Linked DNA regions of Homo sapiens: all the other regions are linked to region 2. Evidence: fine-mapped expression QTL. A gene starts in region 2. Each other region holds a variant in brackets. All regions are shown on one strand. Distances are from middle to middle.

Region 1 (8,106 bases), 260 kb before region 2:
CGCATCAGTCCAATCTTCTGTCCAATCCATGGCCTTCTTCCCTGTGTCTCTGTGACTCGGTGTGTCCTCTCCTCTTTTATAAGGACACCAGTCATTGACTTAGGCCCTCCCTACTCCAGGATGACTTCATCCTAATCAACAGCATCTGCAATAACCTTATTTCTTTCTTTCTTTCTTTTTTTTGAGAGGGACTTTCACTCTTGTTGCCCAGGCTGGAGTGCAATAGCGCGGTCTCAGCTCAATGCAACCTCCGCCTCCTGGGTTCAAGCGATTCTCCTGCCTCAGCCTCCCGAGTAGTTGGGATTACAGGTATGGGCCACCACACCCAGCTAATTTTGAATTTTTCGTAGAGATGGGGTTTCTCCATGTTGGTCAGGCTGGTCTCAAACTCCTGAACTCAGGTGATCCACCCGCCTCGACCTCCCAAAGTGTTGGGATTACAGGCATGAGCCACCACGCCCGGTCCGCAATAACTCTATTTCTAAATAAGGTCACATTCTGAGCTGCTGGAATTTAGGATTTCAACATGTTTTGAGGAGGACTCAATTTAACCCGTAAGAATACTATGTGGACCACACATGCTGCTTCACATCTGTTATCCCAGCACTTTGGGAGGTTGAAGCAGGAGGATCATTGCTCAGGGCGTAGGGGACACCAGGTGCATAAGACCACAGCGTTGACTGGTGTGGGGGCTCACACCTGTAAGTTTGGGAAGCTAAGGTAGGACGATCACTTGAGCCCAGGAGTTTGAGGCCAGTCTGGGTGACATAGTGAGACCTCATTTCTAAAAAAAAAAAATTAATTAGCTGGGCTTGGTGGTAGCCACCTACAGTCCCAGCTACTCAGGAGGCTGAAGCAGGAGGGTCGCTTGAGTCCAGAAGATCAAGGCTGTGGCGAGCTGTGATTGCAACCCTGCACTCCAGCCTGGGCAATAGAGCAAGCCCTGTCTCAAAAAAAAAAAAAAAAAAAAAAAGGCATCTCCCTTGTCTTCTGATTCCCTGAGCTGTCATAGAAAGGAAGTGAAGCAGAGAAAGCATCCCCACGAAAGGGAATTTTCAAAACCAGCCTAAGCAACATAGCAAGATCTTGCCTTTAGAAAGTATTTAAATTGGAAGGAAAAAAAAAAAAGCAGTACTATAGCACAGAGTTGACAGCTACAGGTGTGGCTACATCCAGGTCCTAAAACTATATCATCAGAATGACCCCTCACCCTCCCCCCGCTTTCCATTTTACTTTCTTAAGCATGAACATGAAATTTCCAAGATTGTCTCTCCTTTGGCTAATCTGCTTCTCAGACCCAATCACTGTGGCCAGGGTGGTGGAAGGACACTGGCATCCAGGCTGGGACCACATGCCCCAGCTCCAGATCAGGGTGGGGAATAGCCAGTGGCACACATGCCATGGGGGACTAGTGACTCCTCAGTGGAAAATCGGGGACTGTCATTGGAGAGCAGCGATAGAAGAAAGGCTGACACAGTGCAATGTATCTCCTGCACCAGCCTGGGCCTCGATGTCTTGAGTACTGATGACACAGTACTCAGTCCAGGGCAATCCCAACTCCATCTGCGGGGCTGCCCACAGTACATGAACCCCTCACTGGATTTGCTGACCACACGTGCAAACAGCCACCTCCCAGCCCCACTCCCCGCAGTCTCCCTGAACCCTGTCAAAATTCCCCTCAGTTCTCACCAAGATTAAAAGCAATTCTGAGGGTGAGCGGCTCATTCTGCTAGTTTAACTCTCTCAATTCCTTCTCTCTCCAGAACTCTGTACTTACTGCTCCATCACTGGTAATGACAATGAACATCTTCACAATCTCAGGTTTTATTGCAAAGTGATTGAGGACCAGTTAGAATAAGTTATGCTACAGAAACTAAAGAAATCCCATCAAGCAAATGGTGTGTCATTGAAAGTCTTAGGACAGCTGTGTATATTCTCTCCCCCAATGAATCAATTGAAAATGAGAAGCTCTTACCGCCATGTTCCGGGCAGAATCTATCAAAAGTATAAGCCATGATATTATAATTTGATGATTTTTCATCCGTCAAATGGATATGGCCCAGGGGAGAAAAGTGGACGCTCCGTAACTAGATGATGGTCAAGAGTTATAAAAATGAGGTCCTCTCTGTTCAACATTTCTCCTTTCTTGAAAGGATACTCAATGTCACGCTCAGGGCCTCTAATGGCCAGAGATAAAATTCCTCCCAGTTCCAGAGCACCCCAGGGCAACCCCAAAACCAGAGCAACTGCTTATTGCCACGTAGACTATGTACTGTGCAATTCCTGGGGTGGCATTTTCATAAATATGTGGGTGGCGCCCCCTGGAGGTATGTAATGCACAACTTGCACAAACGGTAAGTCATCGTATCCCAAAGTCCACAAAGAAGAGGTAAGCAAAACTCCCATCGATGTTGCCATCAGTCATGAGTCTGCCTTTTCTTCATGGGACAGTAGCAAAAACAATTTGGCCAAGTGTGCTTGGATGATCTCTAAGATGGAATCAGGGTCTCTCACTTTCAGCACTATTGACATTTGGGGCTGGATCATTCTTTTGTCTTAGTGGGAGTTGTCCGGGGCATTGTAGGATGTTTAGTAGCATCCCTGGCCTCTACCCATTAGCTGCCAGTAGCACCACCTCCTCCAGCCGCAACCACCAAAATTGTCTCCAGACATGGCCACATGTTCTCTGGGGGGCAAAATCACCCCCTGGCTGAGAAGCCCTGAAGTAAAGACATAATACGCAGATCACATGTAAGTAAGAGAGCCTAAGGGCCACACAGGTGATGCTGTACCCCTGACAAAGCCAGAGTCTTAAAGAGGTTAGAGAGGTGGAGAAAGAGAAAGGAAATGAAGTCCCAGCTGCCGAGAGCAACAGATGCTGACTAGATGTTGTTGATAGTCATCTTTAAACTGAGGTTAAAAGATGCTGAGAAGCCATCAGCTCCCATCCTGCTCTCCAGGGACAACGCTGCTGAAAAAGGCCTGGAGATCAACAAAGCCCCAAACACAGCTGCACTGAGCAAAGAAACCAGAGATTGAGACAAAATGACATTCCCTCAAAGACTACTCATTTCCAAGAGGGGAGAAAAAGTGGAGTCATGAAAAACAGTTGAGGCTGGATAGAGTGAATCACACCTGTAATCCCAGCACTTTGGGATTACTCCCAGGCTGAGACGGGAAAATTGCTTGAACTCAGGAGTTCAAGACCAGCCTGGGCAAAATAGCAAGACCTTGCCTCTAGAAAAAGGGAAAAAAATTAGCCAGGTGTGATGATACACGCCTGTGGTCTCAGCTACTCGGGAGGCTGAGGTGGGAGGATCGCTTGAACCCAGGAGGTAGAGGCTGCAGTGAGCCGGGATTGCACCACTGCACTCCAGCCTGGGCTACAGATCTTGTCTCAAAAAAGAAAAAAATTAAACAAAATTAAGGCCGGGCACGATTGCTCATGCCCGTAATCCTAGCACTTTGGGAGGCCAAGGTGGGCAGATCACGAGGTCAGGAGATTGAGACCATCCTGGCTAACACGGTGAAACCCCATCTCTACTAAAAATACAAACAATTAGCCGGATATGGTGCTGGGTGCCTATAGTCCCAGCTACTCTGGAGGCTGAGGCAGAAGAATGGAGTGAACTCGGGAGGTGGAGCTTGCAGTGAGCCAAGATCACCCCACTACACTCCAGCCTGGGCAAAAAAGCAAGACCCTATCTCAAAAAAAAAAGAAAATTGAAAATTTTTTTGAGACCAAGTCTCACTCTGTCACCCAGGCTGGAGTGAAATGCTGCGATCTCCACTCACTGCAACCTCCGCCTCCTGGGTTCAAGTGATTCTCATATCTCAAACTCTTACCTCAACATGACTACAGGCATGTTGTCACCATGCCTAATTTTTGCATTTTTAGTAGAGATGGGGTTTCACCATGTTGTCCAGGATGGTCTTGAACTCCTAGGTTCAAGCAATCTACCCACCTCAGCCTCCCAAAATGCTGAGATTACAGGCATGAGCCACCGTGCCCGACCTCTAACTTTTCATTATGGAAATTTCCCATACGCACAAAAAGCAGGGAGAGAATTGCACGATGAACCCCCATGCACCCATCATCCCACTGCAAGAACTTGTCAACATTT[C/T]GCCAATCTCATTCCAGTTCCCACTTTTCTTTTCCTTCTTGCTATTTTAGGATATTTTAAAGCAAATTCCAGACATTTCATTTCACCCACATCCATAACACGCCAGGGTGCATTCTTGATGTAAGGATTTTGTTTTGTTTTATAACACCCATGACATTGCCACACTTAATTGATTTAACATGAAGAAACTAAGATTCTTGCAGGTGGAGAAAAGATCTAATTACCACCTTAAAGCCTCTCCTACTAGCGCTTCTCAGATCTGAACGTGTATGCAAATCACGTGGGCATCTTGTTAAAATGCAGATTCTGGCCCAGCAGGTCCTTCCGGGTGAGCCCTGAGAGTCTTCAATTCCAAAAGCTCCCTGGTGACGCAATGCTGTGGGTCCATGAATCACACTAGAGGAAGGGTCGGCCAAACACCCACAACAACTGGGTGCAAAGTCCTGACTGTTCCTGACTGCAGGGCCTTCAGTGAACGGGGAAGCTGGGGACCATTAGGGAAAGAAGGGAGGTTTTTCGTATCAGCTCCAGGCCTTGTAGAACTGCCAGGGAATAACAGACACAAGGGCAGCAAAGTCTAACCAACAGCACGAGTTCATTCATATTCCACAACCACTGCAGCAAAGAACCATGAAATGGGTGGCTTCAAACAATGTCTGGGCCGGGTGCCGTGGCTCACACCTAAATAATCTCAGCACTTTGGGAGGCTGAGGTGGGTGGATCACTTGAGGCCAGGAATTCGAGACCAGCCTGGCCACTATGCCAAAACCTCGTCTCTACTAAAAATACAAAAATTAGCCATGCATGGTGGCAGGCACCTGTAGTCCCTGCTTCTTGGGAGGCTGAGGCAAGAGAATGGCTTGAGCCTGGGAGGCGGAGGTTGCAGTGAACTGAGATCGTGCCACTGCACTCCAGACTGGGCAACAGAGCAAGCCTCTGTCTAAAAAAAAAAAAAAAAAAAAAAAATTGTCTGGAAGCCAGAAGTCCAAAATCAATCAAATGTCAGCAGGAGCATGCTTCTTCAGAGGTTCTAGAGGTGAATCCATTCCTTGCCTCTTCCAGCTTGTAGAGGCTACTAGAATTCCTCAACTTGTGGCTGCATGATCCATTCTTTGCCTCTGTGATCACCTTGCCTCCTCCTCTTCTGTCTGGGTCTCCTCCTCTGGAGGAAGAGTGTCAGGCCTCTGAGCCCAAGCTAAGCCATCATATCCACTGTGACCTGCATGTACATACCCAGGTGGCCAGTTCCTGCCTTAACTGATGACATTATCTTGTGAAATTCCTTCTCCTTGCTCATCCTGGCTCAAAAGCCCCCCTACTGAGCACCTTGTGACCCCCACTCCTGCCTGCCAGAGAACAACCCCCCTTTTTCCTTTACCTACCCAAATCCTGTAAAATGGCCCCACCCCTATCTCCCTTCACTGACTCTCTTTTTGGACTCAGCCCACCTGTACGCAGGTGACATAAACAGTTTTATTGCTCACACAAAGCCTCTTTGGTGGTCTCTTCACACAGATGCATGTGAAATTAGGTGCTGTGACTCAGATCGGGGGACCTCCCTTGGGAGATCAATCCCCTGTCCTCCTGCTCTTTGCTCTGTGAGAAAGATCCACCTACGACCTCAGGTCCTCAGACTGACCAGCCCAAGCAACATCTCACCAATTTCAAATCTGGTAAGCGGCTTCTTTTTACTCTCTTCTCCAACCTCCCTCACTATCCCTCAACCTCTTTCTCCTTCCAATCTTGGCATCACACTTCAATATCTCCCTTCTCTTAATTTCAATTCCTTTCATTTTCTGGTAGAGACAAAGGAGACACGTTTTATCCGTGGACCCGAAACTCCGGCGCTGGTCATGGACTAGGGAAGGCAGCCTTCCCTTGGTGTTTAATCATTGCAGGGACGCCTCTCTGATTATTCACCCAGGTTTCAGAGGTGTCAGACCACGCAGGGATGCCTGCCTTGGTCCTTCACCCTTAGCAGCAAGTCCTGCTTTTCTGGGGGAGGGGCAAGAACCCCGACCTCTTATCTCTGCACCCCGATACCTTATTTTCATGCCCTGACCTCTTATCTCTGTGCCCTGATCCCTTATTTCCATGCCCGCCCTCTTATTTCTGAGCCCCGATCCCTTATTTCCACAACCTGACCTCTTATCTCTGCACCCCAACCTTTTATTTCTGTGCCCCAACCCCTTTCCCTCTTTTCTGGAAGGCAAGAACCCCCCATCCCTTCTCTCCATGTCTCTACTGTCTCTTTTCTCTAGGCTTGCCTCCTTCACTATGGGCAAGCTTCCATCCTCCATTCCCCTTTCTTCTCCTTAGCCTGTGTTCTTCAAAACCTAAAACCTCTTCAACTCACACCTGACCTAAAACCTAAATGCCTTATTTTCTTCTACAATGCCGCTTGACCCCAATACAAACCCAACAGTGGTTTCAAATAGCCAGAAAACGGCACTTTCAAATTTTCCATCCTACAATATCTAGATAATTCTAGTCATAAAATGAGCAAATGGTCTGAGATGCCTGATGTCCAGGTATTCTCTTACACATTGGTCCCTCCCTAGTCTCTGTTCCCAATGCAACTCATCCCAAATCTTCCTTCTTTCCCTCCCACCTGTCCCCTCAGTCCCAACCCCTAGTGTCGCTGAGTCTTTCTAATCTTCCTTTTCTACAGACCCATCTGACCTCTCCCCTCCTCGCCAGGCTGAGCTAGCTCCCAATTCTTCCTCAGCCTCTGCTCCTCCACCCTATAATCCTTTTATCACCTCCCCTCCTCACACTGGATCTGGCTTGCAGTTTAATTCTGTGACCAGCCCTCCCCAACCTGCCCAGCAATTTCGTCTTAAAAAGGTGGCTGGAGCTAAAGGCATAGTCAAGGTTAATGCTCCTTTTTCTTTTTCTCAAATCAGATAGCGTTTAGGCTCTTTTTCATCAAATTTAAAAATCCAGCCCCGTTCATGACTCGTTTGGCAGCAACCCTGAGTTGCCTTACAGCCCTAGACCCTAAAAGGTCAAAAGGCCGTCTTATTCTCAATATACATTTTATTACCCAGTCTGCTCCCGACATTAAATAAAACTCCAAAAATTAAATTCCGGCCCTCAAATCCCACAACAGGACTTAATTAACCTCGCCTTCAAGGTGTACAATAATAGAGCAGAGGCAGCCAAGTAGCAACATATTTCTCAGTTGCAATTCCTTGCCTCCACTGTGAGACAAACCCCAGCCAAATCTCCAGCACACAAGAACTTCCAAACGGCTAAAGCGCAGTGGCCAGGCATTCCTCCAGAACCGCCTCTCCCAGGAGCTTGCTACAAGTGCCAGAAATCTGGCCACCAGGCCAAGGAATGCCTGCAGCCCAGGATTCCTCCTGAGCCATGTCCCATCTGTGCAGGACCCCACTAGAAATTGGACTGTTCAACTCACCTGGCAGCCACTCCCAGAGCCCCTGGAACTCCAGCCCAAGGCTCTCTGACTGACTCCTTCCCAGATCTTCTTGGCTTAGCAGCTGAAGACTGACAATGCCCGATCGATTGCCTCAGAAGCCTACAGGACCATCACAGATGCTCTACGTAACTCTCACAGTGGAGGGTAAGTCCATCCCCTTCTTAATCAATACGGAGGCTACCCACTCCACATTACCTTCTTTTCAAGGGCCTGTTTCCCTTCCCTCCATAACTGTTGTGGGTATTGACAGCCAGGCTTCTAAACCTCTTAAAACTCCCCAACTCTGGTGCCAACTTAGACAATACTCTTTTAAGCACTCCTTTTTAGTTATCCCCACCTGCCCAGTTCCCTTATTAGGCTGAGACACTTTAACTAAATTATCTGCTTCCCTGACTATTCCTGGACTACAGCCACGTCTCATTGCCACCCACCTTAACCCACAAGTAGAAGATACCTCTACTCCCTCCTTGGCAACCTATCATGCACCCCTTACCATCTCATTAAAACCTAATCACCCTTACCCCGCTCAATGCCAATATC
Region 2 (8,106 bases):
GAATTACAATTTGACATGAGATTTGGGTGGTGACACAGAGCCAAACTGTATCAAGGGTAGTTGAACCACCGAGATTTATTTATTTGTTTATTTATTTAGAGACAGAGTCTCGCTCTGTCACCCAGGCTGGAGGCTCACTGCAACCTCCGCCTCCCGGGTTCAAGCAATTCTCCTGCCTCAGCCTCCCGATTAGCTGGGACTACAGCACATGCCACCATGCCTGGCTAATTTTTGTATTTTTAGTAGAGATGGGACTTCACCATGTTGGCCAGGCTGGTCTCCAACTCCTGAGCTCAGGTGACCCGCCTGCCTCGGCCTCCCTTTTGCTAAGATTACAGGCATGAGCCACAGTGCCTGGCCAACCACTGAGATTTAGAAAGCAGTCGAGTCCACTATACCGCACCTCACCTGGTTTCTTCCTCTGTTGGGGCCCCTCGTGGCCACTGTTCTCCTGGTACTTTTCAGTCCTGTTTATTTAAATTGATGGTGAGCTGTTTGTCCTCCCGGCTCCAACACTTCCACCTTCAGCTTGTATTACCACAACAATACCAGCCCTTCAAGCAATTCTGGGTGACCCCAAAACTCATTTGAACTCAGCAGCCCAAGAGTTTCATTCCTCTAACTTTAGGGGACTCAGTGCCTCTGGTCAGCATGAAGTAGATACAGAAGCATGACCTCCATCCCTAATCCCTCAAGAATGAGGAGTGGAAGGTGTCGGCAGGAGGGTGGGGACACGGTTTGTAAATCTGGAACTGCATCAGACTAAATCTAGTTCAAGTTTTTTTTTTTTTTTGACGGAGTTTTGCTCTTGTCACCCAGGTTGCAGTTTAATGGCGCGATCTCGGTTCACTGGAACCTCCGCCTCCTGGGTTCAAGAGATTCTCCTGCCTCAGCGCATCACCACCCCTGGATAATTTTTGTATTTTTAGTAGAGGCGGGGTTTCACCATATTGGCCAGGCTGGGCTGGAACTCCTGACCTCGTGATCTGCCTGCCTCAGCTTCCCAAAGTGCTGGGATTACAGGTGTGAGCCACCACACTCCACGTCCATTTCAACTTTTATGTAATGTAGTTGGCAGTTGTTTTTCAACTGCCATGGATCCGTGGGTTGAAGGTCATATACTCTGAGCATGCCCAGATTAACCAAGCATGCAACCACGAAGTGGAACCTAAGTGCTCGGACTGAGGAGCTGGGACCCATTTAAGAACCGGACACCCTGTGGCAGGAGCCAGGAACCAATGAGATTGAGTTTTGGTGTCACTCCATGGCAGGATCCAGTCAGATCACACCTCCCAGCATTAATTACTTCATCTCAAGATCCAATCAAATCACATCTCCTTACCCTATGCGTACAAAACCTGACATAGCCCCCAGCTGGGAAAGGGAGATTTGAGCATTTCCTCCTGTGTCCTTGCTAGTTGACTTACAAAAAGGCTTTATTTCTCAAAAGCTGGAGCCATGGTATTGGCCTCTGTACACACTGGGCAGCGAGTGCATTGACTGCTCGGTAACATATATGTGGACTACATGCGGACTCGCATTTCCAAAACATTTGATTTGGTTTCAGTAAAAAATACCTTTCTAGCACATTAAAGCAACAGAAGTTCAATTTCTCTTTTTTTCTAAGAATTTGGGCAAATTCAATTTATATAAGTACATACACACCTCTACAAGCCAATCAGAACAGCAAACCTTTAAAGACTCTATATTGTGGCTCATGCCTGTAATCCCAGCACTTTGGGAGGCTGAGGTGATCAGATCGCTTGAGCCCAGAAGTTCGAGACCATCCTGGGCAACATGGCAAAACCCCATCTCTATAGAGAATACGAAAATTAGTTGGGTATGGTGGTACACACCTGCAGTCCCAGCTAATTGGGAGGCTGAGGTGGGAGGAACACCTGAGCCCAGGTAGGTTGAAGCTGCAGTGATCCGTGATCGCACACACTGCACTTCAGCCTGGACGACAGAGTGAGACCCTGTCTCAAAAACAAACAAACAAACTCTATATCTACTATAATACCATTCAGAGGTGGAAAAACATTAGACACTCACACAATCAGAGGTAAAGACCTTTCTAAATTACAGACACACAGACATACAAAGAAATAGAGCTTACAGCTTCAATTCTAAAATTTCAGACATGGGTCAAGAGTAAACACAAAAATGCAAAAACTCACCCTTCCAGATATGAAAGAGCTCTTCTCCTCCCAGTGGGCATGAAATTCTTAATTGATTTCAGCTCAAAATAGACAGAGAAATAGAATAACAAATCAGACTCTGATGTCTCTCACCCAACAGAGATTAGGTCTTTGCAAACATTAATCTCATTACAGAGATCACCATGTGATCAGACCATAAAACCAAATTCCTAGCCCAGCGCGGTGCTTCACGCCTGTAATCCCACCACTTTGGGAAGCTGAGGCGAGTCTACCACCTGAGGTCAGGAGTTCGAGACCAGTCTGGCCAACATGGAAAAACCCCGTCTCTACTAAAAATACAAAAATTAGTCGGGCATGGTGGCATGCACCTATAGTCCCAGCTACTCAGGAGGTTGAGGCAGGAGAATCACTTGAACTTGGGAGGCAGAAGTTGCAGTGAGCCGAGATCGTACCCCTGCACTCCAGCCTGGGCGGCAGAGTGAGACTTTGCCTTGAAACAACAAAAACAAACAAAGTCCCAATCAGTGATGCTAGCAATGTAAACAAATGCAAACCAAAGTAAAACACAGGATTGGTAAATGGGGAAATTACTGAAAAATGAGAAGCCAGCAAATTTCTACTGGCACTTTGGACTCATTCCTGGGAGCCAAGAAAAGATTCACCTGGGCTTCAACAGTTCATGAGGCACTCCAGTCCTGAGGTTTTCCTGGCTCAGTCATGTGATTCCATCAGGGACTTCTGCAAAGACCTGGAAAACCTTAAAACATAAAAGTAAAATCATGACTCTGATACAGATATAAAAATGAGCACATGCTAAAGATTTTATTTAATTCAAGAGGAAACAGGCAGATATTATAACTGGTTCAAAAGAGAATCTGAGGGCTGGACATGGTGGCTCATGCCTGTAATCCCAGCACTTTGGGAGGCTGAGGCGGGTGGATCACTTGAGGTCAGGAGTTTAAGACCAGCCTGGCCAACATGGTGAAACCCCCATCTCTACTAAAAATTCAAAAATTAGTCGGGCTTGGTGGTGTGCACCTGTAATCCCAGTTACTTGGGAGGCTGAGGCAGGAGAATTCCTTGAACCAGTGAGCCAAGATCTCGCCACTGAACTCCAGCATGCACAGCAGAGTGAGACCCTGTCTCAAAATTAAAAAAAAAAAGAGAGAGAGAGAGAGAATCTGAGAAACAGACATATTTTCAGATCAGGAATATTGAAATGATTATGTAAATGGAGAAATGCAGTCAAAACTGCATTTTCTCTAGTGGGGATTGTGGGAAGTCAACCAACTTCCACCAGACAGAACATAACTTGCATCGATTACCTACAGTTTTCAAAGAGGTGTAAAATACCTCAAAGATAAGGAACAGGGTTGGAATCAAGTAACATGGCTTTCTAAATGTGCTTCGTTTTCCATTAAGACGCAAATTTCTTCTTCTGCTTGCCTCATCCTCTTCAGGAAGTAGAGTTCTGGCTAATTTTTTTCTTCTTTCAATTCTGTACATATTCTCTGAGTTTTCTAGCTATCACTAATTCAAAGTGATTTGGAAAAGCTGGAATTCTTTTTCTCCTTGTTGGGGCGAGGATGGTATCCTGTCCCAGGCTAATCCTCTATTATTTCATCCATGGGCTCTATTTACTGAAGTTTTCGTTAAATGTGTCATTGTGATCATAAGCTAGCATGATGCACCCTCTTGTTCCATTTGTCACGGTTGCACATGGACATTGATTTTAAGCCTTGAGCTCTCCGGTAAGGCAGGACTGGCCCAGGCATGGTCTACGAGATGCTACAGGAAGCAGAGACTTTCTAGACGTTCCCTTAAAGATAGTCAAGACATCCCCATGAAGACGTTCCCTTAAACTAAGGAGAAATTTGAGTCTGGGGTTCGGCGTTGCCAATTCTCTTAGCATAGAGCCTCTTAACCGCTAGACCAGATAGAGACATTTCAAATGGCTCCTAAATTTGGGGAGCGCGTAGGCTCATGGGAAATAGAGTCACGGTATTTGTCCTGGGACCGGCGGCGGGTCCCGGGAGGCGGACTTCCGGTGCATTCCTGCGCATGTGCACCCCTCTCTGTGTGCGTGTTCGCGCATGCGCGCCGCGGCCGCAGTGCCCTCGCTTCCTGTGCGTCCCCAGGTCACCGCTCGCCCTAGTTCCCAGGCTTTGGCCTCCGGTGGGCGAGAATCGCGGAGCCTGCGGGGCTGGGCGCCGAAGAGCCGGGCCGGCACCCAAGCGGGCGCGGGGCTGTGCGGGCCAGGCGGAGGCTCAAGCGGGGATCCCCGAGCACGACCCCCGGAGCCGACGGCGCTGGGGCCCAAGGGGCCGGCCGGGCGGTGACGACGGCGGAGGCGAAGGGGCGGCGGGACCCGGGCCCGGCCCGTGTGCGTCCTCGACGGCCCGGCCCCGGCTCCGCAGGACGGTGAGCCCCAGGGAGACGGATCTGGGCTCCGGGAGGGACGCCCCGCCTGGATTTGTCCCGTAGGCCCGGCCCGGGCCCCTCTGGAGCAGAACGGCCTTGGTGAGGTGGACAGGAAGGGACCTCGCGAGCAGACGCGCGCCCGCGACAGCAATCCCGCCCCGGCCTGTCGGGAGCGGTGGGGCAGAGGCTGCGGAGCCCCAGGAGGGTAAGTCGTGGGTTTGCGGGCCCGGGGCGAGAAGGGCCTGGGTGAAGTCACCGCGTGTAGGGCACCTTAGAGTGAGGGACAGTGGAAGGTCTCGATCGCTTGCAGGAGTGACGTGTGTTTGGGTTTGAAGGCAGGGTCCGGCGAGGACGAGGCTTACGGGGGCGTGGGGGGTGTCACCAGCCTCAGCTGCGGACGTTGTCTCCACTCCCCCCTCACCCCAGCAGCCCTTCCTCCTCTCTCTGCTCCAGATTGCTACCGTATCTAAACGTCCGTCAGCACCTCTGTTCTCTCATTTAAGTGCTGATTCCCCCTTAGGTCTGCTCTTGTGGAATCATACGTTGTAGTGCAGGAACAGCCTGCAGGAACTATCTCTTGCTGCCTCATTTGCTAGGGGAAGGGCCTTAGCAGGTGGGTGACTTGTCCGAGGTTTTGTGGGTGGAGTTGCTCATAGTAGAACTCTGGAGTTTTATCTCCCAGGCCAGTGTTCTGTCCCCCGTATCCTAGTTAAGTGAGCGTAAGTTCTTCAATAAAAGATCCTTTTGAGTAGCACACTGAAGTTTCTGCAAATAAAGACTCAATTATGCCGACTGTATTCCTTTATTTAGGGCATCCTGTGGATTTTCTGATCTTTATTTAAAAGAGTAAGAAAATAGATGAGTATTACAGAATTCATTTTTTGTTGTTTGTTTTTTGTTTGTTTGTTTGTTTGTTTTTGAGACAAGTTTCGCTTTGTTGCCCAGGCTGGAGTGCAATGGTGCCATCCCAGCTCACTGCAACCTCCGCCTCCCGGGTTCAAGCGATTCTCCTGCCTCAGCCTCCCGAGTAGCTGGGGTTACAGGCGCCCGCCACCACGCCCAGCTAATTTTTGTATTTTTACTAGACATGGGGTTTCACCATGTTGGCCAGGCTGGTCACCAGAATTCCTTTTTAAATCTTGCATTTAATGATGGCAGATTATTTCAGTAGGATCCAGTATTCATTCACCATGAGAATCTCATCCACTCAGTCACAAGGTAGCCATGTGTGAGTTTCAAATGTGCAGATCGGTCCCCCTCCTGATCATTTTCCAATCCCTTCTGAAGGCTTAAAGGGACAGTCTCCCACAAGATGTACTTCTTGGAACTTTCTGTGTAGGTTTTGGGCGGGAGATGACCGCCTTGGCAGGCCAGACCGCTCATAACGCCATGGCTTGGGTTTTCCTTCCCCAGATCTGCCTCCGCTTTCACAGTCCTCCAGATTTTTCCAAGAGCAGCAGAAAATGAATAAATCCCTGGTGAGTGTTTCTGTTCATGTATTTATTCTCTACTCTGATTTACAATACACCTTAGGAGGAGATTAAGGGTTCAAAGTTTAAAATGGGAAAGTAGAAATAGATACAAGATTTGGTCAGACAGAACAGTAGCCATCAGCACCAAGCCTTTTTATCATATTCATATGCGCAGATAGCGTGATCCTTAAAGAGTTCTTGAAGTCAGAGTACAAGCGTCTTATGTTCTTGGCATTTATCACAAAAAATGATAAATACCATCCATTCCTTGACTTACATTGACCGTAAGCAGAATCACTTTTGTTTTTGCATGAATTTTAAAGATTCCTCTGAGATCATTATCAACAGCTTTCCTAAATAATAACCCTTGAACCATTGCAATTCTTGCCTTTCTTTTTTTTTTTTTTTTTTTTTTTTTTTTTTTGAGACCAAGTATTGCGCTCTGTCACCAGGCTGGAGTGCAGTGGCGCTATCTCAGCTCAGTGCAACCTCCACCTCCCAGGTTCAAGTGATTCTCCTGCCTCAGCCTCTGGAGTAGCTGGGATTACAGGCATCTGCCACCACACCCGGCCTTTTTTTTTTTTTTTTTTTTTTTTAAAGTAGAGACAGGGTTTCACCATGTTGGCCAGGCTGCTCTCGAACTCCTGAGCTCAGGTGATCCACCCGCCTCGGCCTCCCAAAGTGCTGAGCTTACAGGCATGAGCCACTGCGCCCAGCCCATAATATTTCTAGTAACTAAAACATTGTTGTCTCAAAGGTAGATTCTTTTTACTGCTCTATCCGTTGCAGAAATGGCCTTCTCACCCTTAAATTAGTCTCCCTAAATATTTTCTTTTCTTTTTTTTTTTTAAAGATGGAGTCTCACTCTGTTGCCCAGGCTGGAGTGCAGTGGCGCTATCCCTGATTCAAGCGATTCTCCTGCCTTAGCCTCCCGAGTAGCTGCGATTACAGGCACCTGCCACCACACCCAGCTCATTTTTGTATTTTTTTAGTAGAGACGGGGTTTCAGAAGCACTTGGGCCAAGCTGGTCTCGAACTCCTGACCTCAAGTGCCAAGTGATTTGCCCACCTTGACCTCCCAAAGTGCTGGGATTATAGGTGTGAGCCACCATGCCAAGCCGCCTCCCTAAATATTTCTCTTAGTTTATCTGGGTTGCACAGCAGAAAGGACCATAATAAATCTCTGGCATAGATGCCCATTTTATCCCATAGCCTGTGGTCTTGGTCCTGTCCCTACCACTCCCCTGACCTTGTTGGAAAAGGTTGCCAATAATCCAGCACATGCTCTTAGTGGACATTTGCATCTTTGCCTTGGCCCACTCTGCAGTTTGCTCTGTCAGTTTGAGTGCCCTTTCTCTTCTTGCCTGCTTCCTGAAATTGATGATTTCTTTGGTCTTCATGTGTTGGTGTCCACTCTTGGCTCACGACTCTGTACCTATCTGATGTCACCCTCCTGTGCTTCTAACTACCAGCTCTGTGTTGGTTTTCCCACATAGAACTGTCCAGCCACCTGCTTAGCATTTCTTTGGAGTGTGTCCAAAGGACCCCTCAAGGTCATAGATGCAGCAGGTTCAGAATAATTATTTGGAGCCCCCCCACCTATGCCTTCTCTTGTTCCTATTGATTCATTGTTCCATCGTCCAGCCTGTAGCCCTATCGAGAAAGATGGGATTCTTTCTAAAGTTGTCCATTTTCTGACCTCGCGATTGTTTTGAGTTTGTACATGTCATATTCTAGATGGTTTTTATCCTGTCCCCTATCCCCTCCCTGCTGTTGTAAAAATAGCTTATTTTTTGGCCTCTCTACTGTTGTAGAGATTTTCTTTCTATACTGCTACTTTCCTCCACAAGCCCAGGCATATTGCATTTCCCATGTCGAGTATTTCTCCTGAAGTGTTCATCATATCGTGCTTCCCCCATGGGAAAAGCACTTGCGTGGCTCCCAGAGTGGCTACTACGAAAATGAGGTTGCCTGAAGCTGGGATGGGGAAGACTGTGGGTAAAGCAGGCTTGAGAAAAGGCCAGAATTAGGTTTCAGATGTTTAAAATTTGGGC
Region 3 (8,106 bases), 28 kb after region 2:
GTCTCACTGTGTTGTTCAGGCTGTAACTGGAGAGTTCATTTCTCCACTTTCCTGTTAGCTAGCTGTGGCCAGGTGACTAGGTTTTGGCCCTCAGGACGTGAGTAGACAGCTGGACAAATGGACAGGTAAGATGGGAAAGCAAAGCCTTAGGATGCAACAGAGTTGCCTAGATGCCTGTCAGGACCAGAGCAGAGGAAAGATGACAGAGACAACTGTCCAGGCAGATGAGACCTGCCAGCCATTTGCACAAATGGGGCCTTCATGACACATTGTCACCAGTGGGGCAGAATTGTTGCATCACTTGCCACAGGTGAGGTGGCCAAAAAGCCAGTGTGCCTTCTCCATCCTCTCTCCCTTTCTGCTAATGAGCAGATTGACCTTGGAAACCTGAAGGAGAACTGAGAAGCCATTTATAGAAAAACTGAAGTCCCTGGAAGCCACTCTCTGAACAAGAGTGCTGATTTTGGACTTGGTGTGATTGAAAACTGAAGTTCTATTGTGTGAGCTGTTACGTTTGCATTTGTTAAGAGGAAATACCACTGAAACAATGGAGAAGGCATCCAGCAAATGCCTCCAACAAAAAATTCCTCCTACCCTACCTGGAAGCTGCAAGTCCCTGGGTAAAGCCGGCAGGTAAACAGTCAACCTCTAGGGCATTCAAATTAGGTGCCACCTTCCCCAAAGAAAGTTAGAAAGGAGACAATTGGAAGGAAGATGAGGCAGGCCTGGGGCCCCAGGAATGCTCAGTGGGCCATGGTGATGTCCCTGGGGTCGGGGAGAGCAGCTGGAGTGACCCCCCAGTCTCTGGTCATCAAGAGATTGTTCAAGCCAGCTGGATTGAGTGGCCCCCCTCAGTGGGCAGTTCACTGAGGTTAAATTTAAATGCAGATTTAGTCATAATCCCTACAGGCTTTGGAAATAAGAGCCTGGTGAGTCTATTCTAAAGGTCATCTCTGAGAATGAATTGTAGGAAAAGCCAAAAAGCTTGAAAAACAGGATTGTTCTTTGATGTATGGAAAAGATTACAAAGCAAGAGGAATTGGAACATGATCTTCTTTAGCATAAAGTATTCATAGTTCAATAAAATAGAATAAAACTCAGAATTGGAGTATAGTCACACACCACATAACATTTTGATCAGTGATGGACCAGATATACAACAGTGGTCTCATAAGATTCTAATACCGCATGTTACTGTGCCTTTTCTGTTTAGATACACAAATGCAACTGTGTTACAGTTGCCTAGCGTATTCAGTACAGTCACATGCTGTTGAGGTTTGTAGCCTGGGAGCGATAGGCCATACCATACAGCCCAGATGGTAGTCTTTACCACGTAGGTTTGTGTAAGCACGCTGTGTGACATTCACACAATGAAGCATTTCTCAGAATATATCTCTGTTGTTAAGCAAAGCATAACGGGACTCACAAGCTATGCCAAGCAGGACTAAAACTGTAAATTAGACAAAAACCAATAAAACCAAGCTGCTGACAACTCCCAGGCGAAACCAAACCAAAAAACGGCTCTACAATGACCTCCCATTACAACCTCCCAACAACTGTCATTAACCTCTCAGATTGAATGTCCTTCCCTGGTAAAATCAAGATGGGCCAAAAGGATGGTGGAATGAATGAATGGTCACCCAGAGAACTTCCAGCTCTCCAGGTTTTCAGCTTCTCTTTCTACAAAGATGTGAGAAAGAGTGCTGAGCACACAAAAAGCAAAGACACTACTAACAGTGACCTACCCTATGATAAAAGTAGTATTTCGGCCAGGCATGGTGGCTCACGCCTGTAATCCCAGCACTTTGGGAGGCCGAGGCGAGTGGATCATCTGAGGCCGTGAGTTTGAGACCAGCCTGGCCAACATGGTGAAACCCCATCTCTACTAAAAATATATATATATAAATTAGCCGGATGTGGTGGCAGGTGCCTGCAATCCCAGCTACTCGGGAGGCTGAGGCAGGAGAATTGCTTGAACCCAGGAGGTGGAGGTTTCAGTGAGCTGAGATCATGCCATTGCATTCCAGCCTGCGGGACAAGAGCAAGACTTCATCTCAACAAATAAATAAATAAATAAAATAAAATAAAAATAGTATTTCAAACCAGGGACAAAGAGATGGATTTCTTAAATAGTGTAAGGACAACTAGCAGTTCATTGCAAAAGTAAAGATTACATCCGTACATGAATCCAGACCTTGTCAAAAAAAAAAGGCAATGAATAATTTGATCAATTAAAAATGACATTTTATATGAAGAGAAAGAATACTTAATATGCAACTAATTTCGAAAAGAACATTTTCCGCTCTGGATTCTTGCAAATAAGAAATGACATTACAGTCGCCCCTTAGTATCCATGGGGGAATTGTTTCCAGACCCCCTGTGGATACCAAACTCCGCATACAAAAGTTTTGAAGTTGACTCTTCAGAACCTGTATACAAAGTTGGCCCTCTGTATCCTCAGGTTTGCATTCTGTGAATACTATAGTTTTGAGCTGTATATGGTTGCAGATGTGGAACCTGCAGATAAGGAGGGCCAACTATTGGGAAAAAAAACAAAAACTACTTACAAGTGGACCTGCTCAGTCCAGACCTGTGCTGTTCAAGGGTACCTGCATTTCCTTATTACATATAAATGTACAGAGCAGAAAGCAGCTGCTGAATCATTTTCTCAAAATCATTCTTGCCCCCAAATCACTGTGACTAACACTTCTGAATTACACAACTTCTTTTAAAAAAATGTATCCTGTCATCACAGCACTTTAGGAGGCCAAGGCAGGAGGATCACTTAAGCCCAGGAATTCAAGACCAGCCTGGGCAACATAGAGACCCTTTCTCTACAAACAAAAACTATCCCTCTTCAAAGTTAGGATGCCTTACAGCTCCAAGTCACAGAAAAATCTCAACTCCAACAGGCTTACACAATAAGAAAAACTAATGACCTCAAGTGCCCAATCCAGAGCCTCCTCAGTGTGGGTTAAATCAGTGCTTCATACCATCAGTGGCCAGGCTCTTCTATCTCTGCTCACCAACCTCCAACTACAGCCCTGGGCCACAAGACGCAAACAATGGATGTATTCAGAAGGGTAATGTGATTCTGCTCATGTCTCTTCATCAGTGATAAACCCTTTCCCAAAAATCATACAGAACACTTCCCTACACATCCTAGAGGTCAAGGCTTGGTCATATGCCCAACCCAAACAGTCCCTGTTGAGGGGGGGAAAACAGGCCACACCAAGGCTTTCATGCAACAAAGCAGCCTAGAACAGTCTGCCCCCTGCTGCAAGGAAATCCAGGTAGAGGAGGGAGAAAGAATGAGGACACAACAGCTGCCACCCTGTTGGCAAATGGTTCCTGGGCTCCTACCGCTTGGGGCCTATGCCATGTACTTCTGGAGGCACCGCTTAGAAACGTGTCAGGAGTAGAAAGAGAAGCACATTTTCTTTATACAATACTATTTTCATTGTCAGTGCAATGAGCACTACTGTTTGCACCTAGTTCTTAACACAAGCTTGAGTTGTTAATGGTATAATACGCTGCCTTTGCATTATTTCTTTTTTTTGTGATGGGGTCTTGCTCTGTTGCCCAGACTGGGGTGCAGTGGCACAACCACAGCTCACTGCAAAGCCAAACTCCCTGGCTCAAAGATCCTCCTGCCTCAGCCTCCCAAGTAGCTGGGACCACAGGTGTACACCACCATGTCTGGCTAATTTTTCAACTTTTTACAGAGACAAGGTGGTCTCGCTGTGTTGCCGAGGCTGGTCTTGAATTCTTGGGCTCAAATAATCCTCCTGCCTCAATTTCCCAAAGTGCTGGGATTACAGGCATGAGCCACCATGACCAGCCTTTGGTTATGTTCTGTTTTTATTGAAGTGACTAAAACCCAAAACAACTGAACACTTTAAAGGTTACTGTTTGGCTTCTTTATTGACAAGCAGATCAATAAGCACGGGCAGAGCTATTTATATACGCCAAAGAACAGTAACAGAATTGCTAAGTGGTACAGTACTTCTCCAAAACTTTTTATTATCAAATTTTTCAAACACAACTCTTGTAAGAAAAACAGTCAATACCCATGTGCCTGCCAGATCAACACTTGCTTAAATTTTGCCATTTTTGCTTTATCGATGCATGCATCTTTTTCCTGAGCCACTTCAAGGCTGCAGACATCAAGCCAGTTCATCTTTCTATATTCAGCATGTTTGCCCTTGAAAAATAGTCCCTCCACCTTTTCTCTCCTTTTAAAAATGATGGCAGCAGGTGGGTGTGGTGGCTCACACCTGTAATCCCAGCACTTTGGGAGGCCGAGGCGGGCAGATCACGAGGTCAGGAGATGGAGACCATCCTGGCTAACACAGTGAAACCCCATCTCTACTAAAATACAAAAAATTAGCCGGGTGTGGTGGT[A/G]GGCACCTGTAGCCCCAGCTACTCGGGAGGCTGAGGCAGGAGAATGGTGTGAACCCAGGAGGCAGAGCTGGCAGTGAGCCGAGATCGCGCCACTGCACTCCAGCCTGGGCAACAGAGTGAGACTCCGTCTCAAAAAAAAGTCAGCTTTTTGAAGAGACCTAGCCAGGTGTCTTCTAAATGTCATTTTTTAAGTTCTTTTTGTCCTAAAACAGAAACAAATCCCACTAAGGATATGCTCATCATACTGCATTTAAAAGTCTCTTGAAAGAATGAGCTCTTCTACTTAGTGAAGTTACCAATTTGATATAAACTTCAGTTGATTTCTTCTTTGGTTTCAATTTCAAAATGTGCTTTTGAGTACGTAAATTACTCATATTTATCCAAAAGTCAAAACTTCACAAAAAGCTACACGTGAAGAAGCCTTGTCTCTATCCTCAGCCCTGCCACCCTGTTCACTCCTATCTCCATAGGCATTCACTTTTGAGTTTGTAATTTACTCTTCAGGTTTGTAGTTTGTAGTTTATACTTATTTGCAAAATATATATATTATATAAAATATATTGGCCAAGCACAGTAGCTCATGCCTGTAATCTAAGCACTTTGGAAGACTGAGGCAGGAAGACCGCTTGAGCCCAGGAGTTCGTGACCAGCCTGGGCAACATAGCGAGCCCCATCTCTACAAAAAATTTAAAAATTAAAAAAATATATAAACATATATAATAGATAAATATATATACAAAATATCTATGTACATACGTATTATTTCTTCCCCTCAATTCTCAAACAAAAGGCAGCAAGCCATATAGTTTTCTGTACTCTGCATTTCTCAATAACATATTGTATACTGCAAATGTCATACATGTCACATATCAAGTATACTGTACTATTAAGATACAAAGAGGCCGGGCACAGTGGCTCATGCCTGTAATCCCAGCACTTTGGGAGGCCAAGGCGGGCAGATCAACTGAGGTCAGAAGTTTTGAGACCAGCCTGGCCAACATGGAGAAACCCTGTCTCTACTAAAAATACAAAAAATAGCTGGGCACGGTGCCAGGCACCTGTAATCCAGCTACTCATAAGGCTGAAGCAGGAAGAATCACTTGAAACTGGGAGGCAGACGTGGCAGTGAAGCGAGATAGTGCCATGCACTCCAGCCTGGGCAACAGAGCGAGACTCTGACCCAAAAACAAACAAACAAAAAGATACAAAGATACACTGGAGGCATTTTGTGTGGTAGATGTGTTACAACAGTTCTTAAGCTATGGAGAGATATTTCCTGCTGACCACTCGGTGGAGTTCCACTATGTAAATCAAACACAGGCCATGTATGTATGTTGTATGCTGCCCACTAACAAATGTAAGGCCATCTTACCTCAAGTACTCAAATATCTAATACTGTCAGCTTGCTGCTGCAACTTGTTTTTCAAAAGACTTCATCTTCCAACAATGAATGTCATTAGCATTAGATGTATCACACATCACATTTGCTAAATTTGGTACCTGAAATGTGACTTCTAGTATTACAGTATTTGTAGGGAAAAAAAAGTATCTCGGCCGGGCGCAGTGGCTCACGCCTGTAATCCCAGCACTTTGGGAGGCCAAGGCGGATGGATCACAAGGTCAGGAGATCGAGACCATCCTGGCTAACATGGTGAAACCCCATCTCTACTAAAAATACAAAAATTAGCCGGGTGTGGTGGCAGGTGCCTGTAGTCCCAGCTTCTTGGGAGGCTGAGGCATGAGAATGGCGTGAACCCGGGAGGCGGAGCTTGCAGTGAGCCGAGATCACGCCACTGCACTCCAGCCTGGGCGACAGAGCAAGACTCCATCTCAAAAAAATAAAGTATCTCTATCTCCTAAACTGATAGACGTCCCCTCAGTATTAATTGTCTGCTTATAGTTGAATTTTTCCTGAAAGCTTTCATGCATAGAAAACATAGTTTTACACCAGTATCAATCATATGTTGTGCAAATGTGCTGGAACTTTGTAAATGCTTTTATATTACTGTTCTATCGGTTTTTCCCTGTGATTTATGTGAAACATACTGTATTTGATTTCTTGGTGGATACTAATATACAAGATGTTCTCAGGGGTCTCTCCTCATTTGAGTTTTCTGGTTTTTTTTTTGTTGTTGTTGTTTTTTTTGAGATGGAGTTTTCATTCTTGTCACCCAGGCTGGAGTGCAATGGCATGATCTTGGCTCACTGCAACCTCCGCCTCCGAGGTTCAAGCAATTCTCCTGCCTCAGCCTCCCAAGTAGCTAGGATTACAGGCATTTGCCACCACGCCTGGCTAATTTTTGTATTTTTAGTAGAGATGGGGTTTCCTCATGTTGGCCAGGTTGGTCTTGAACTCCTGACCTCAGGTGATCCATCTGCCTCAGCCTCCCAAAGTGCTGGGATTACAGGTGTGAGCCACCATGCCCGGCCAGTATTTTCTAAGATAACACAAAATCTTCCCATATCCATTTCATTTGTGGAGAGGCCTCCAGTCCCTATATCTTGTGTTTTCTGATGCCAACTAAGGATTTAATTTACACAGAAGGAGACCCCTACATTATTTACATTCATAAGGTTTCTACCATGAATTTTGGTTTGAAAAACAAATTGACTTTACACATGAGGATTTCCCATATTTGTTACAATTCAGAGTATCACTCTTGTGTGGAGGATGACTTCATACAGATTTCCCACATGTATTGCCTTCATATGGTTTCTCCCCTGTGTGAGTTCTCTGATGATTGATGAGGTTTGACTTCACATAAAACATTTTCCTGCATTCATTACACTCAAAAGGGTTCTTCCTGGTATGGGGTCTCTGATGCACAGTGAGGTGTGATTTCATACAGAAATAAGTAACAGATTTGCTACATTTATAGGGCTTCTCTTCTATGTGAGTTCTCTGGTGAATGGTCAAGGGTGACTTATAACAGAAGGATTTCCCACATTTATTACATTCATGGGGTATCTCCCCTGGGTGTGTCCTCTGATGTTCAATGAGGTGTGACTTCTGGAAGGTTTTTCCACATTGCTTACATTCATAGGGTTTCTTGTGTGGTGTATTTTCGATGATGTTTAGCAAGGTGTGACCTCTGGTAGGTTTTCCCACATTCTTTACATTCACAATGTTCCTCCCATATATGTATCCTCTGATGCTGACTGAGGGCTGACTTCATATAGAAAGATTTTCTACATTCATTACATTTATAAGGCTTCTCCCCATATGAGTTCTCTGATGTACTGTTAGGGTTGATTTATGGTGAAAAGTTTTCTGACATTCAGTACATTCATAGGATTTCTCTTCTCAGTGTGTTCTCTGATGATCAGTGAAGTTTGACTTCATAGAAAAGGCCTTCCCACATTCATTACATACATGGGGTCTCTTTCCTGTGTGATTTCTCAGATGAATATTAAGATGTGACTTCAGGCCAAGTGCAGTAGCTCATGCCTGTAATCCCAGGACTTTGGGAGGCCAAGGCAGGCTGATCACTTGAGGTCAGGGGTTTAAGACCAGCCTGTCTCTACTAAAAATACAAAAATTAGCTGGGCATGGTGGCAGGCACCTGTAATCCCAGCTAGTTGGGAGGCTGAGGCATGACAATCGCTTAAACCCAGGAGGTGGAGGCTGCAGCGAGCCAAGATCACGCCACTGCACTCCAGCCTGGGTGACAGAGCGAGACTCCATCTCAAAAAATTAAAAAA
Region 4 (8,106 bases), 760 kb after region 2:
TCACCGCAACCTCTGTCTCCTGGGTTCAAGTGACTCTCCTGCCTCAGCCTCCTGAGTAGCCAGGATTACAGGCATGTGCCACCATGCCCAGCTAATTTTTGTATTTTTTAGTAGAGATGGGGTTTTTCCATGTTGGTTAGGCGTGTCTCGAACTCCCGACCTCAGATGATCTGCCCGCCTTGGCCTCCCAAAGTGCTGGGATTACAGGCATGAGCCACCGCACCCAGCCTACCTTCATCTGTTTTTACAGCCATTCCCCATCGCTGGCATTCCCGCCTGAGCTCCGCCTCCTGCAGATCAGCAGGGCATTAGATTCTCATAGGAGCGCAAATCCTACTGTGAGCTGAGCATGGGAGGGATGTAGGTTGCACGCTCCTTAGGAGAATGGAATGCCTGATGATCTGTCACTGTCTCCCATCACCCCCAGATGGGACTGTCTAGTTGTAGGAAAACAAGCTTAGGGCTCCCACTGATTCTACCTGATGGCGAGTTGTAGAATTGTTTCATTATGTATTACAGTGTCATAATAATAGAAATAAGGCGTGCAGTAATTCGAATGTGCTTGAATCATCCTGAAACCAACAGCCCCCCACCGCTTTCCACCATTCATGGAAAAACTGTCTTCTACAAAATCGGTCCCTGGTGCCAAAAAGGTTGGGGACCTCTGGTTTCAAGGACAGTATCACAGTGTCACCTGGAAAGCAGTTAGGAAATGTGGAGGGAGCTGGGAAGGCCCAGGTTGGGAGACGAGTGTTCCAGAAATCAGCGCGTGGTCATTTCCCCCGTGATTACGAGGTACTTGATAAAGAGACAGTCTCGTGACATAACAGCAACAGCACGAGGTCACCTACAAAAGCAGGGCCAGCAATGCACGGTCTCAGGGTGAAATCCAGTCCACCCCCGTTCCCCTAAATCATGCTTTACTGGAACACAGACATGCCCGTTTGCTTACGTGTTCGTGACTGCTTTACCCCGAAGCACCACAGCTGAGGGATTGTGATGTAGACGGTCTGGTCCACCAAGCCTAAAATATTTACTCTCTGGCCCTTTACAGAAAGTTTGCCTCCCTCTCTCCCCCTGACCAGCGATCTATAGTAAAAGAGCACTAAATTGTCAGGTCAGAAATGGGGAGATGGCCAGGCCTCGTGGTTTACGCCTGTAATCCCAGCACTTTGGAAGGCCGAGGCGGGTGGATCACTTGAGTCCAGGAGTTTGAGACCCGCCTGGCCAATATGGTGAAACTCCGTCTCTACTAAAAATACAAAAATTAGCCAGGTATGGTGGTACATGCCTGTATTCCCAGCTACTTATTGGGAGGCTGAGACAGGAGTAGAATCGTTTGAGCCTAGGAGGTGGAGGTTGCAGTGAGCCGAGATTTCCAGCCTGGGTGACAGAGTGAGACTCTGTCTCTAAAAAAAATGCGGTGGCTCACACCTGTAATCAGCACTTTGGGAGGCCGAAGTGGGCAGATCATGAGGTCAGGAGTTCAAGACCATCCTGGCTAACATGGTGAAACCCCGTCTCTACTAAAAATACAAAAAATTAGCTGGGTGTGGTGGTACGTGCCTGTAGTCCCAGCTACTCGGGAGGCTGAGGCAGAAGAATCGCTTGAACTCGCGAGGCGGAGGTTGCAGTGAGCCGAGATTGTGCCACTGCACTCCAGCCTGGGCAACAGAGTGAGACTCTGTCTCAAAAGAAAAAAAAAAAAACAAAACAGGGAGAATCAGCAATGGCTTGGAAGAGTCTAGAAAAGGCCCTAAGTAGTCTTAGGATTGGTCTTGATTTCAAATTAGGAAGTTGATGTCATCAATTTAACAACTTTGGAAGTTTAACTTCTTTCAGCCAAATCCTGGCAGGCAGAGCTGCAAGCTTCTAATTATCCGCTTGAAAAATGAAGTATTAGAGCAAATGCCTATTTACGTCAAAGTTTAGTGTTTGAAACATACTTAAAATCCATTTAGAATTAGCAGCATTCATCAGATTGTGTCTCAGACTATTCTGGAAAACAGTGGGACAAGATTGACATCTTTTTTTTTTTTTTTGAGATGAAGTCTCGCTCTGTTGCCCAGGCTGGAGTGCAGTGGCTCAATCTCGGCTCACTGCAGCCTCCACCTCCCGGGTTCCAGCGATTCTCCTGCCTCAGTCTCCCAAGCAGCTGAGATTACAGGTGCCCGCCACCACACCTGGCTAATTTTTTGTATTTTTGGTAGAGACAGGGTTTCGCCATGTTGCCCAGGCTGGTCTCAAACTCCTGACCTCAGGCAATTTGCTGCTGCAGCCTCCCAAAGTGCTGGGATTACAGGCGTGAGCCACCGTGCCTGGCTTTCACGGAGTTTTAAATTTTTGGTTGGACGCTTATACACATGTTCAGAGCATTTTGAAATAAGCGCATATATTCAGTTCTTCGAATTGTATACCAGGCGCAAATAAAATGGAAGGTTCTAGCAAATGTCAGGCATCCTCTCCAATTTTCTTATTTTAGCCAATAATGACATACCAGTTGAAGAAATCCATTCTCCATTTACAACAATACTTTTGAGAACATTTTTGAATTACCTCCTGCATTTGGCGTACCACATTTATCATGAAGAATTCCAGTAAGTACTATTTCTGGACCCTTGTTGGGGGATGGGGCACAGCTAAGCTGTATTATTGTCATAATGCCCTCTTTTCTTCAGCAGTCATTTTTATTTTTTTGGAGATGGAGTCTTGCTCTGTCGCCCAGGCTGGAGTGCAGTGGCACAATCTTGGCTCACTGCAACCTCTGCCTCCCCGGTTCAAGCAATTCTTCTGCCTCAGGCTCCTGGGTAGCTGAGATGACAGGCATGTGCCACCATGCCTGGCTAATTTTTTTTTGTATTTTTAGTAGAGACGGGGTTTCACCATGTTGGCCAGGCTGGTTTCAAACTCCTGACCTCAGGTGATCCACCTGCCTCAGCCTCTCAAAGTTCTGGGATTACAGGCGTGAGCCACCATGCCCAGCCTCAGCAGTCTTTTTTTAACATACTCTTGAAATGAAGGACTCAGAACACAACCTTTCCACAAATATTAACCACAAAGCCATGACATACTGGATCAAAACTTTGAAAGCCCTTCATATCTGGTCAGTTCAATACTGCAAATATCTCTCGGGGTTTCTAATGCAGAAACAAATAGTCACAACCAAGTCTTCTTTCTTATGTCAGAATTTCTTGTCTTTCTTACAGCAAAAGTGGTTTTATATCTTTTTTTAAAAAAACTTTTATTTATATATTTATTTTTTTGAGATGGAATCTCGCTCTGTCACCCAGGCTGGAGTGCAGTGGCGCGATCTCGGCTCACTGCAACCTCCACCTCCCAGGTTCCAGTGATTCTCCTGCCTCAGCCTCCCAAGTAGCTGGGATTACCGGTGTCTGCCACCAAGCCCAGCTAATTTTTTGTATTTTTAGTGGAGATGGGGTTCCACCATGTTGGCCAGGCTGGTCTTAAACTCCTGACCTCGAGTGATCCGCCCACCTTGGCCTCCCAAAATGCTGGGATTATAGGTTTGAGCCACTGACTTTGCCTTCCCTTTCTATACTCTATACATTAGAAGCAAATTATTAAGTCTAGCCCGTGCTCAAGGAGAAGGGAATTAAGTTCCCTCTTTTGGAGGAGAAGTAACTATGGTATCTTTTGATGATTATCACAGAAAGAGAAGCCCATCCCTCTTCTTGTGTTTTACAAAACTGATGACCGAGAACATTCGTCCAAATGCCTTCCAGATAAAAGGTAAATACAAAACCAGTAGGATTCTATTTACCGCCCCATTTTTTTTTCTCAAAATATAAATCTGGGCTGGGCGCAGTGGCTCACTCCTGCAATCCCAGCACTTTGGGAGGCCGAGGCAGGAGGATCACCTGAGGTCAAGGAGTTCAAGACCAGCCTGGCCAACATGGCAAAACCCCATCTCTACTAGAAATACAAAAAAATTAGCCAGGTATGGTGGTGCATGCCTGTAATCCTAGCTACTCGGGAGGCTGAGGCAGGAGAATCGCTTGAGCCTGGGGGGCGGAGGTTGCAGCGAGCCAAGATGGTGCCACTGCACTCTAGCCTGGGTGACATCAAGACTCTGTCTGGGAAAAAAACAAAAGCAATAGGATTATATTTACTGCTATTTTTTTCTCAAAACATAAATCTGTAATCATTTTTCGAACGTTGTATTTTTAGGCAATTTATTCCGTGAGCAACAGCGGACGCTCTACTCTATGAGTTACATGAATAAGTGCTGGGAGATTTATCTCGCTTACTGCAGACCCAGTGCAGCGCCTCCCCACGAGCCTACGATGAAGATGAGACACTTCCTCTGGATGCTGAAAGTAACCACCTAAGTTCGATATTGGCTTTCTATTTACAGGCACTTTGATTTTAATTAAAGAAAGGCAGGATATTCCAGCTGTGATATGCAAATAATCAGGTGAAGATCTGGGCTGGATTTTCAGGACCATTAAATGTTTACTGAGTCTCTTGGCAGAACAGTGGTCTGTGGTCGTGGAAGGAACAGAAACAGCCGTCACCTGCCCAATATGCTAACAGATTAGGGCAAGACAATGGTCCATGGCCTATAACAATGGCCCATGGCATGCATATATATATATATTGCAATCCCAGCACTTTGAGAGGCCGAGGTGGGCGGATCACCTGAGGTCAAGGAGTTCAAGACCAGCATGGACATATATATTTATATATGCCATGGGCCATTGTCTTAAAAAAA[A/T]ATATATATATATATAAATAAATATATATATAATAAATATATATATATTTTTAATTTTATTTTTTTGAGACGGAGTTTTGCTCTTGTCACTCAGGCTGGAGTGCAATGAAGTGATCTTGGCTCACTGCAACCTCCACCTCCTGGGTTCAAGCAATTCTCCTGCCTCAGCCTCCAGAGTAGCTGGGATTACAGGTGCCCGCCACCACACCTGGCTAATTTTTGTATTTTTAGTAGAGACGGGTGTTCACCATGTTGCCCAGGCTGGTCTTGACCTCCCAACCCCAGGTGATCCACCCGCCTCAGCCTCCCTAAGTGCCGGAATTACAGGTGTGAGACACTGTGCCTGACTGGCCTACAATATCTTTATTTATGCAGATCCAGCCATTTAAAGGAAGATAGGGCCGAGTACAGCGGGGCACCCCTGTAATTCCAGCACTTTGGGAGGCCGAGGCAGGAGGATCACTTGAGCTTAGGAATTCAAGACCAGCCTGGGCAACATAGTGAGATCCCCCTCTCTACAAAAAATAAAAAAATCATAGCCGGGCGTGGTAGTGCACGCCTGTAGTCCCAGCTACTCGGGAAGCTGTAGTAAGCTGTGATCGTGCCACTGCATTCCAGGCTGGTTGACAGAGTGAGGCCCTGTCCCAAAAAAATCCCCCAAAAAACAAAAAAGGAAAATGGAGGAACACCTTAGTCTTTTTGATGGACTGAAGTGTTGCCTGATCCTAGAATAGCAATAAAGTCAACTGAAATCTTTTTAAAAAGGAAGGACTTTGGAAGGCGGAGGGGGTGGATCACCCGAGGTCAGGAGTTTGAGACCAGCCTGGCCAATGCTGTGAAACCCCCTTTCGACTAAAAATACAAAAAAATTAGCCAGGCATGGTGGCCGGAGCCTGTAATCCCAGCCACTTCGGAGGCTGAGGCAGGAGAATTGCTTGAACCTGGGAGGCCGAGGTTGCAATGAGCTGGAATTGTGCCACTGCACTCCAGTCTAGGCAACAAGAGCAGAACTCTGTCTCAAAAAAAAAACTAAGGAAGTGGGGAGGATGGATATCATTTAAAACAATTACAGTTTATCGAAAAAGGAATTTTTAAAAGTTATTACTTGGGAAAATAGTGACAACATTTATACAATGTTCTCATACTAACTATTGGTTGTTTTTGTTCCATGATACTTTTTTTTTTTTAGACAAAGTCTCGCTCTTTTGCCAGGGTGGAGTGCAGTGGTGAGGTCTCGGCTCACTGCAACCTCCGCCTCCCGGGTTCAAGCAATTCTCCTGCCTCAGCCTCCCGAGTAGCTGGGACTAAAGGCGTGCATGACCATGCCAAGTTAATTTTTGTATTTTTTAGTAGAGACAGGGTTTCACTATGTTAGCAAGGATGATCTCAATCTCTTGACCTCGTGATCCGCCCGTGTCGGACTCCCAAAGTGCTGGGATTACAGGCGTGAGCCACTGTGCCTGGCCTGTTCCATGGTACTTTTAATTTGTACTTGTGGGAATACAAATGATTAAACAGAATCAAATACTAATGATACAGTGTTTTTACAAATTTCATAATGTTGTATACATATGAAAAATGGATAATAACCTAGTGTCTAACTATAGGAAAATAGTTTTGTTTTTTTGAGCAAGGTTCTCACTCTGTCACCCAGGCTGGAGTACAGTGGTGCAATCTTGGCTTCCTGCAACCTCAACCTCCCGGGTTCAAGCAATCCTCCCACCTCAGCCTCCTGAATAGCTGGGACTACATGTGTGTGCCAACATACCCAGCTAATTTTTCTATTTTTTGTAGAGACGGGTTATTGCCATGTTGCCCAGGCTGATCTTGAACTCCTGGGCTCAAGCAGTCCTTGTGCCTCGGCCTCCTGAAGTGCTGGGATTACAGGCGTGAGCCACTGCACCTGGCCCTTTTCATGGTTTCATTTGTTTCAAGCATGTTTGCAATTGCCCATTGAATAATAATAATAATAATAATAATAATAATTATTATTATTATTATTATTTTGACAGTCTTGCTCTGTCGCCCAGGCTGGAGTGCAGCGACCTGATCTTGGCTCACTGCAACCTCCGCCTCCCGGGTTCAAGTGATTCTTCTGCCTCAGCCTCCCGAGTAGCTGGGATTACAGGTGCATGTCACCACGCTCGGCTAGTAGAGACGGTTTCACCCTGTTGCCCAGGCTGGTCTCAAACTCCTGAGCTCAGGTGATCCAACCATCTCGGCCTCCCACAGTGCTAGGATCAGAGGCATGAGCCACCACACCCAGCCTCATGGAAGCATTTTTGTGATGACTGTCTCACAGTCTCTGTCAGTCAATTGTAACATCTTTGTCATCTTGGAGATGGCATCTGTGGATTCTCTTTTTTTCATTCAGTTTGAGATCTTCCTGGTTCTTGGTATGAGTTTTTTTTTTGTTGTTGTGTTTTTGAGATGGAGTCTTGCTCTGTCTCCCAGACTGGACTGCAGTGGCGTGATCTCAGCTCACTGCAACCTCTGCCTCCTGGTTCAAGTGATTCTCCTGCCTCAGCCTCCCAAGTAGCTGGGATTATAGGTGCGTGCCACCATGCCAGGCTAATTTTTGTATTTTTAGTAGAGACGGGGTTTCTCCATGTTGGCCAGGGTTTCACCATGTTGCCCAGGCTGGTCGGTATGAGTGATTTAAAAAAAAAAACATTGAAACCTGAACATTTGAGTACAGTAAGTCCTCACTTAACATTATTATTATTATTATTTTGAGACAGTCTTGCTCTGTCACCCAGGCTGGAGTGCGGTGGCACGATCTCACCTCACTGCAACCTCTGCCTCCTGGGCTCAAGTGATTCCCTTGCCTCAGCCTCCCGAGTAGCTGGGACTACAGGCACACGCCACCATGCGCAGCTAATTTTTTTGTATTTTTAGTAGAGATGCGGTTTGTCCATGTTGGCCAGGATGGTCTGGATCTCTTGACCTCGTGAGCCGCCTGCCTCGGCCTCCCAAAGTGCTGGGATTACAGGTGTGAGCCACCGCGCCCGGCCCCACATAACGTTATTGATAGGTTCTTGGAAACTGTGACTTCAACCAGTGCCGTGTGGTCAGGAGCTTAACTCTTCTTCATGTCAATTATTCTGCGGTCACATCGGTTTTGTTGTGCAGCACGTTGTTTCCCGACGTGCTTTTCGGCCTACAGCATCGTGTTAATATTTCACACCTGGACCGTGTTCTGGTCTCCCATGTTCTATGTCCTGTTCTGATGCCAACAAATACTCTGCTGTTATTTTGGAGGCACTAGAGAAGGGATAGAGAGGTAAATACGTGTGTGTGTGTGTGTGTGTGTGTGTGTGTGTGTGTGTGTGTGTGTGTGTGTTTGAGACAGGTTCTTGCTTTGTTACCCAGGC

Direction of the effects. Alleles are on the strand shown, and positions count from the first base shown. SD is a standard deviation of normalised expression in the study named. Not every link is listed here.
With allele C in place of T in region 1, the expression in lung of the gene that starts at base 4,270 in region 2 is lower (moderate effect, 0.65 SD a copy in GTEx).
In carriers of allele T in region 4, the expression in naive CD4 T cells of the gene that starts at base 4,270 in region 2 tends to be lower than with A alone (large effect, 0.89 SD a copy in Schmiedel 2018).

What was found. PIP is the estimated chance that this variant, and not a neighbour inherited with it, causes the effect.
Region 1: its variant is fine-mapped to the expression of ZNF12 in lung (GTEx, PIP 0.98).
Region 3: its variant is fine-mapped to the expression of ZNF12 in whole blood (INTERVAL, PIP above 0.99).
Region 4: its variant is fine-mapped to the expression of ZNF12 in naive CD4 T cells (Schmiedel 2018, PIP 0.95).

The regions. Positions count from the first base shown.
Region 1 is chr7:6,959,456-6,967,561 of GRCh38, reverse strand. It overlaps LOC112267992, which reads left to right and starts at 7,514. Exons shown (of 2, transcript XR_002956537.2): 1 at 7,514-7,710. It overlaps LOC107986763 (a long non-coding RNA gene), which reads left to right. Exons shown (of 3, transcript XR_001745073.1): 3 at 5,640-5,717. RefSeq lists an enhancer at 4,327-4,826. The variant C/T (reference allele first, on the strand shown) is at 4,125.
Region 2 is chr7:6,703,111-6,711,216 of GRCh38, reverse strand. ZNF12 (zinc finger protein 12) reads left to right here and starts at 4,270. Exons shown (of 5, transcript NM_016265.4): 1 at 4,270-4,785; 2 at 5,994-6,058. The coding sequence starts at 6,044. RefSeq lists an enhancer at 4,102-4,601 and a silencer at 4,295-4,654.
Region 3 is chr7:6,675,342-6,683,447 of GRCh38, reverse strand. No RefSeq gene overlaps it. Among named protein-coding and RNA genes, the nearest start is that of ZNF12, 28 kb to the left of the region's middle. The variant A/G (reference allele first, on the strand shown) is at 4,405.
Region 4 is chr7:5,939,555-5,947,660 of GRCh38, reverse strand. RSPH10B (radial spoke head 10 homolog B) reads left to right here. Exons shown (of 21, transcript NM_173565.5): 13 at 2,483-2,597; 14 at 3,671-3,750; 15 at 4,189-4,337. Among named protein-coding and RNA genes, the nearest start is that of RSPH10B, 27 kb to the left of the region's middle. The variant A/T (reference allele first, on the strand shown) is at 4,733.